Homo sapiens: one gene and its partner. The protein of the gene in region 1 purifies or fractionates together with the protein of each later gene. This does not show direct contact. Each region holds a gene or a part of one and is shown in the gene's direction. Other genes may lie near its edges. The genes, in order: MPPED2 and KCTD3.

Region 1 (3,826 bases):
TGCAGTGAGGTGAGATTATGCCACTGTACTTGAGTTTAGACACTGTCTAAAAAAAGCAAAAACAAAAGTAAGAAAACCTCAGTGGAATCCATAAGCACAGCCTGAGGATTTTAAAGTGGAATGGGGGTTGCTAAAAGCACTGAAATCCCTTTAAAATGCTTTGTAAGGATACAGTTCTATTCTCTCACTGAATTATAGGTTGATTGTATACACAAAGGTTATACTGCACACATGGTCTAAAGAAGAAATCCATGTCACAACAAACCACATGACAGCTTTTCTGAAGATCTACCAATGAGGTTTGCAATACTGTATTCATTTGTTATTGGAAAAACAATAATAAATATGGCCGGAAGAGGAATCAGAATGGAAGCCATAATATTATCATATTTTTTGTGAGTAAAAAAACCCTAATATGTCAAGACTGAATAAACAAGAATGGTTTATTTGTTTGAATATGCAGTGAGATATGTAAGCATTTGATGATCAAGCTTCAAGAACAAGATTTGAGGCTTGGCACAAAACTTGGAAAGTTCATTGGAAAATGGTTTAAGATGATAGCTCAGGCCTTCTCTAGAAAAATCTGCCAATTTGTTCAGCAGTGCCACCTCCCCATGGCCTGGGCTAGCATCTGTCTTTGATGAACAGCTCATTGGTTCATGAATTCACACAGACCATGAATTCTGACACTACAAAGGGAGGGATTCTCCCCAGTGAAATTGTATCTGGGAGGAAATAGCCTTCTGAGGACATTAGACATCTTATCACACAAGGAAAAATGGAAGAAACTGTAGCTACTCCACTAGAGTGGAGATGATTTCCGGGGATTATAATAGATTGTTTTCAAATAGTTGAAGAACTGTCCAATGGAAAAGGGACTGGGTTCTTATTTTCTTGTTATTTCAGAGTGCAGAACTAGGATTAAGAAGGAGGGACAGGCAGGAAATAAATATATTAAAGACCATGGATTCCGCTCCCAGTATATGCTGGGTGTTGTGTATGTGATTTCTTTTAATTCTCACAAAGTCCCTGAGTGAGTGGTAGATGTTATTATCTCCCTACAACAGAAAAAGAGATGGAGGTCATAGAAGTTAAATGATACTACTACTAATAGTAGTAAAAATACTATTAGTTACTAGTAAAAAAAAAATACTAACATTTATTGGGTATCTACTTCATGTCAGACACTGTTCTAAATGCTTTGAGTACATTATCATTTTTTATTCTCATAACAATCTTAGGAGATAGGTACTATATTTATATCTGTTTTACTGATGAGGGAACCAAGGCACAAGGGTTAAGCCCCTTGCTTGGTGTTGCATGTTAATAAGTTGTGGAGTGGATTTCAGAGCCAGGCAGTCTGGCTCTGCAGCCAAACATCCTTCACCCTTACGCTATTCTGCTACTCTATTTTTGGAGCATTTGTTGTGTGTCAGATGCTGTACTTGATAGTTTGCATCCACATAGCAACACAGAAAATTAGGCATTATTATTCCCATTTTACAGATGAGAAAAAGTGAAGCTTAAAGAAATCAAGGAAGTTGCCCAAAGCCAATGACTGACCTAAAATTGTTACTTAGTCTTCAGGTTCCAGGCCAAAGTCTTTGGACCATGCTCAGCTTTCTCAGAGGTACAGAATCTGAAACAGAACTTTCTAACAAGTAAAGCTATGAAAAAACTAGGATGGGTTGCACAGGGGGAGGAAGGAGCTCTCCTTCTCTGGAAACCTCAGAATGAAAATTGAAGCCAGGTGGGGGTGGCTCACGCCTATAATCTCAGCACTTTGGGAGGCTGAGGTGGGAAGATTACTTGAGCCCAGGAGTTCAAGACTAGCCCAGGAAACATAACAAGACCTCACCTGTACTACTGCTAATAACAAGAAAAATAAGCTGGGTGTGGTTGCCTGTGCCCATAACCCCAGCTACTCTGGAAGCTGCGGTGGGAGGATTGCTTGAGCCTGGGAGGTCGAGGCTATAGTAGGCTATGATTGTACCACTGCACTCCAGCCTGGGTGATAGAGCGAGATCCTGTCTCAAACAAACAAACAACAAAAGAAAAAACAACCAACAAACCAAACAAACACAAAACATTATGTCGTCTAGAGGGAAGGGATAGAGGAGATTCAGATGTCATGTAAAACATTGAACGAGATGCCCCATAAGGTTTAGTCCTGCTTTGGGATTTTATGCTGCTATGTTTTTTTCTCATCTTCCCATGTCACCTTGTTGTCCCCCAGGTGTACTCAAACATATGTGCAAATATCACTCTAATATTTGAATCTGGCTCTGGGGTTTAGATTGCCTTGGTAAGATACTCACTTGCTAGGATATTTGACACGATGCCTTAGGGGAAATGTTAGGTCATTTGAGAACTCAGCAGCATAAACAGTAAGTGGTAAAGTTGTAAACTAAGGATGAAAATATAGTGTGAGGGCCTTCACACAATATGAACAGATAGGATCTTCCAGTAGCAGTTGGAGTCTCCCTTAGATGTACTTTTATAGTGAAAATGTTTGGCTGTCTTGACTTTTCCAGGTGTTTATCAAATGCCCAATTTGGGAGGAGTAGTTTCCTGAGGGTGGTCTCAGTTTTAATTATCTCCACTGGAATTTGCCCACTCTGCTAGAGGTCTTATTTTCAACTCTATGCCTGTGGGTGGAAATGTCTTCTTCCTATGAGCTCCAGGTGATATTTGTTGTACCATCTCACAGAGTGGCTTTGGCATGTTGCACTGCCTTGTCTTCTGAAACCATCTCTTGCTTTGTACTTATTCCTATGGATAGCAAAGATTCTCAGTGCCTCTGGGTCAGGATATCTATATAAAGTCTGCATCTGTATACGCCTCACTTCCCCCATCCCCTGCCTTGAATCGATCTTCTGTGCATTCTCCCTAGTGTCTACACATTATTTCTCTTTGATGGCATCATGGTGGTGGTGTAGATGTGCGAGCCTTCTTTGCTTGTCTTGCTGTCTACTTTGGACTCAAAGCTGAGAAGAAACACTTACTATTTCAGCTCAAAGCTGAGAAGAAACACTTTTCCCATTTTTACTGTCCCCTCTACTCAGCTGTTCCTTGGACTTTGATATTTAAATGTTTCTCTGAAGGAGGTGGGAGGTGGAGAAAGAGGTTGAAGTGATTCAGAAATTGCCTAGTGTTCCCCATAATGTCAGAAAATTTATTGCCTAGTATGAAGTCAAGATGAGGAACCAATTATGTACCATGTGATGATTGGCTACTTTAAAGTGGGTAGATTCATAGAACAGGGAACTATTTACAACAAGAGGTTTACATCTGTGCTACTTTCAGTCTAATTCAAAATAATGACAATGATGTCTGTCTGATAAGCTGAGATGACCTCCCAAAGGATTTTGATGCAGTAGCTGGGTCTGTAGCTTAGCTGAGTTACAGAAAAGGAGAAATGGGGCTGTGTCTGTATGTTAGTATTAGAATGAAAGCTAGAAAACAAACACTAGAATAGGTAGATATTACATTTATTCATATATTTAGAGATGTAGTGGCTGATTTATTAAATTTTCATTCAAATGTTGGTGCATTAAGTATAAATGCAAACAGTCCTATTCTAGTGAGCATTTAACTATTGGTATAGGGATATTGCTTATCACTTTTAGAGAGTGACACAGTCAGCCCCAGCAGGGAACAGTCATTCATTCTCTGGGAAAACTACTTTTCAAAGACAGGAAATGTTGCTAAGATTGTAAGCACCGAGACTGAGTGTAACCAAGTCTCAGTGATGGAAAGGAAGACATCAAACATTTTTACATCTAAAAAAGCAACATCGGCTATAATGAGGAGGGTTTCCAGGTTA
Region 2 (3,826 bases), on another chromosome or scaffold:
TTTTTAATTGGGAAAGTGATAGGACTCTTAGTTCAAAATCACTGTACTCATTGAGAAATGTTGATGACAGAGAATGGTGTAGAAGCACAAAAGTGGTTGGAATATACTAGCTTAGATTATTATTTCATTTAATTGCAGAAAAATCAAAGATACATAAACTATTTGTTTATCACTGTTGAGTTCGGTTAAGAAAAATAGTCACAATAAGCTGAAAAATATCTAAAATGTCTTCTAAAGTTTACAGATATAGTTTAAAGAATCCCAGATGTATTTTTTTTTTAAAAATCTGAATTTATGAAAGGTTTGGCATGTCTGGTAAGTGCTGTTTATATCAGTAATCTCAGGTTTATATTTTCCTTGTAGTAATGATTAAGTGCAGACTTTTATGTTTTAAGAGTGTTTTGGCTGGGCACGGTGGGTCACGCCTGTAATCCCAGCACTTTGGGAGGCCGAGATGGGTGGAGTTCAAGATCAGCCCGACCAACATGGTGAAACCCCATCTCTACTGAAGATACAAAAATTAGCCAGGTGTGGTGATGCATGCCTGTAATCCCAGCTACTCGGGAGGCTGAGGCAGGAGAATCACTTGAACCCAGGAGGTGGGGGTTGCAGTGAGCTGATAGCTCACCATTGTACTCCAACCTGCGCAACAGAGCAAGACTCTGTCTCAATAAATAAATAAACAAATTTTTAAAAAAAGTGTTTTGTGGATTTGTAATTTTAATTATGAAATAGCATGGAAATTGTTTTTTGCATAATTTCTTTGGGGATGGTTTTGTATGAGGCAAGACTAATTTGGTAAAGTAATTTTTTTTTAGGAAGCATTGTTTTGAATTTATCATCTTATATATTTGAATTGAGGTGACTTGTAGACCCTTGTTTACATATTATGTACATATTTTTGTCAATAAGGAATTCCAGAAGAATTGTGAAATGATAAGTGATCCAAGTGTAACAGCATAACTTCCGTTTTGTTACTGTACACAATACTAAAGATTGCTCTTTTCCAGAACCACCACATTATTACGCAAAATTTAACTCACTGGGTAATAATTGTATGGAGGATGATGCTATTACATTTTCCAGTCTTTGCGTTTGCATTGATCACGATCTTTCTGTGCTTTCACCAAGTGTCTGACATTTCAGAGCAATATACTCATGTAAAGTGACGAAGGAAGACAATTGAGGACATATTTGGATTTCCTCACATATAGTTAAATCATTCAACACAATGGCAATAAAAAGATTTCAAAAGAAAGAAAAATATTTAAACTGTTTAAAAGTGTAATCTTTTTTACAAGTTATTTTTCCTCAAGTTTTTGTATCAGTAAGTTACAAAACCTTTAAAAAAAGAGTAGTACAGTGAAGACCTGTATGATGTTCTCCTAGCTTCACTAATTTTCTACATGGTTAGGTTTTATGTTTATGTCCCTTTTTCTTGCTGAGTTTATGACAGTGTTACTTCTATTAACGAAGAGTAGTTGTGTGAATTGCTGCCCCCTTGGGGCTTATATTCCACTTTAGATCTTTAATCCTTGTGGAGTTTACTTTTTTGTATGTGGTATGAGATTTAAGGATTTATTTTCTTCTCAGTGGGTAGGTAATTATGTTCTGACAATTTATTACGTAAATCATTCTTTGTCAGTGAATCTGATAGCCCATTTTATCTTGCTTTATGTGTGTGTATATACTTGGATCTGTTTTTCAGTTCTCTCATTTCCTTAAGACATATGTCTATTCTCATACAACTTGAGGTGAAGTATGTTCATAATAAGTTTCAAAATCTCACAGGGCATGTCCTCTCTACTGTATTTTATTGAGGTCTTCATGTAGGAAATAACTAGACGTAACTCTATTCTTCGCATAGCTGTCTTAACCAGAGGGTTGGTTCACTAGGCAGCAGTAAGATGATGGAGAGGTGAAATAACAGAGCATATTCTTGTTTTATATTTTGTTTTATTTATTATTATATATTTTTTGTTTTGTTTTGTTTTTGAGATTTTGAGACAGAGTCTTGCACTGTCACCCAGGCTAGAGTGCAGTGGCGTGATCTCGGGTCACTGCAACACCTGCCTCCTGGGTTCAAGCAATTCTCCCACCTCAGCCTCCTGAGTAGCTGGGACTACAGGTGTGCACCACCACACCTGGCCAATTTTTGTATTTTTAGTAGAGACGGGGTTTCACCATGTTGGCCAGACTGTTTTCAAACTCCTGATCTCAAGTGATTCACCCGCCTCAGCCTTCCAAAGTGCTGGGATTCCAGGCGTGAGCCACTGTGCCTGGCCTTGTTCTACATATTTTAAATGTATTACTTGTATGGAAAGTTATAGAGCAAATATGTACCTTCTTTGTAATTTTTTAAAAAACAGGTAAATTCACATATCTTATTAAGAGTTAAATTCTGTAGTTGTTATAGTTATTTTTAAATATGCTGTCCTGATTCTTTTATCCTTTTTTGACATCTCTTTATTGTGTAATACCCTAATTACTATAGAGAAAAACAACTTAGAAGTAATATGTCTGTAAAAGATGAGATTATATAGTTTTTTTTTTTAAGTGAATCCAAGTTTATTAAGAAAGTAAAGGAATAAAAGAATGGCTACTCCATAGCCAGAGCAGCCCTGAGGGCTGCTTGACTGAGTATACTTACAGTTATTTCTTGATTATATACTAAATAAGGGGTGGATTATTCATGAGTGTTTCAGAAAGGAGCAGGCAATTCCCAGAACTGAATGTTCCTCCCCTTTTTAGACCATATAGGGTAACTTCCAGACATTAGATGTCATTTGTAAACTATCATGGGGCTGGTGAGAGTGTCTTTTAGCATGATAATGCATTATAATTAGCGTATAATGAGCAGTGAGGACGACCAGAGGTCACTTTTGTTGCCATCTTGGTTTCAGTTTTGGCTGGCTTCTTTACTCCGTCCTGTTTTGTCAGCGGGATCTTTGTGACCTTTACCTTGTGCTGACCTTCCTTGTTACGCTGTGACTAAGAATGCCTAACCTCCTGGGAATGCAGCCCAGCAGGTCTCAGCCTTATTTTACTCAGTCCCCATTCAACTCTGGTTTGAACACCTCTGACATGTTTTCCCCTTCCCTTTTACAAGGGTACTCTTAATCCTAAGGGTTTCAGAGGGAGGAAGATTCATCTTCTGTAACTTCTGCAGTCTGAATAGGGATGATGGTATTTCTGCCTATTAGGGTCTTCTGCATTCAGAGTAGAGGAGAGCTCAGTTAGAAACTGTCAGTATGGTGAGAACTCTGATTTCTGACAAAAAGTGATGACTGAAAAATTAATAAGTGTTCGATTTAAGAAAGCACTGAGTAAGCTTATCTTGCATTCCTACACAAAGAGAACAACAGCAGTATATTCTACAATAACAAGGCAAAATAAGTAAAATTATCCCAAGTAAACTAAATAAGAAGGCTTTTCATGAACTGGGAAATTGTTGTAACCAAGCTGATATGGAGTTGGAACCAAGCTGATGTGCTAGCCAATTCCAATACATGCCCACAATTAGAATACTGATCCAGATTTCTGTGTTACCCATGCCTCTTGTTTCTTCTGAACAGCAGCCACAGATCACTGCTTGGTCCACAAGGATAAGCAGGATGAGTCCAAATTGCAGAAAGAACTCAAAAACTACTGATGAGACAAATCTAATAAAAAGCATACCATAGTTTTTGAAACAATTTTCCTATTTTCAGTCTTTCATTTTTACTAAAGAAATCATGGTAGGACTGATTTGTTTGCAAAATAAGCTTTAGTCTTATTATACTTGGCCTGATTATTTGTATAAAGTGCAGCAAGAATAATTAGTTCC

Evidence for each region.
Region 2: the proteins of MPPED2 (region 1) and KCTD3 fractionate together in Homo sapiens (co-fractionation; one large-scale study listed by BioGRID). This does not show direct contact.

Annotation. Positions count from the first base shown.
Region 1 is NC_000011.10:30,537,847-30,541,672, reverse strand, and holds part of MPPED2 (metallophosphoesterase MPPED2), read left to right. Parts: intron 1-198; exon of another isoform or gene 199-294; coding exon of another isoform or gene 295-395; intron 396-3,826. UniProt on the Homo sapiens protein: Displays low metallophosphoesterase activity (in vitro). May play a role in the development of the nervous system.
Region 2 is NC_000001.11:215,580,577-215,584,402, forward strand, and holds part of KCTD3 (BTB/POZ domain-containing protein KCTD3), read left to right. Parts: intron 1-3,826. UniProt on the Homo sapiens protein: Accessory subunit of potassium/sodium hyperpolarization-activated cyclic nucleotide-gated channel 3 (HCN3) up-regulating its cell-surface expression and current density without affecting its voltage dependence and kinetics.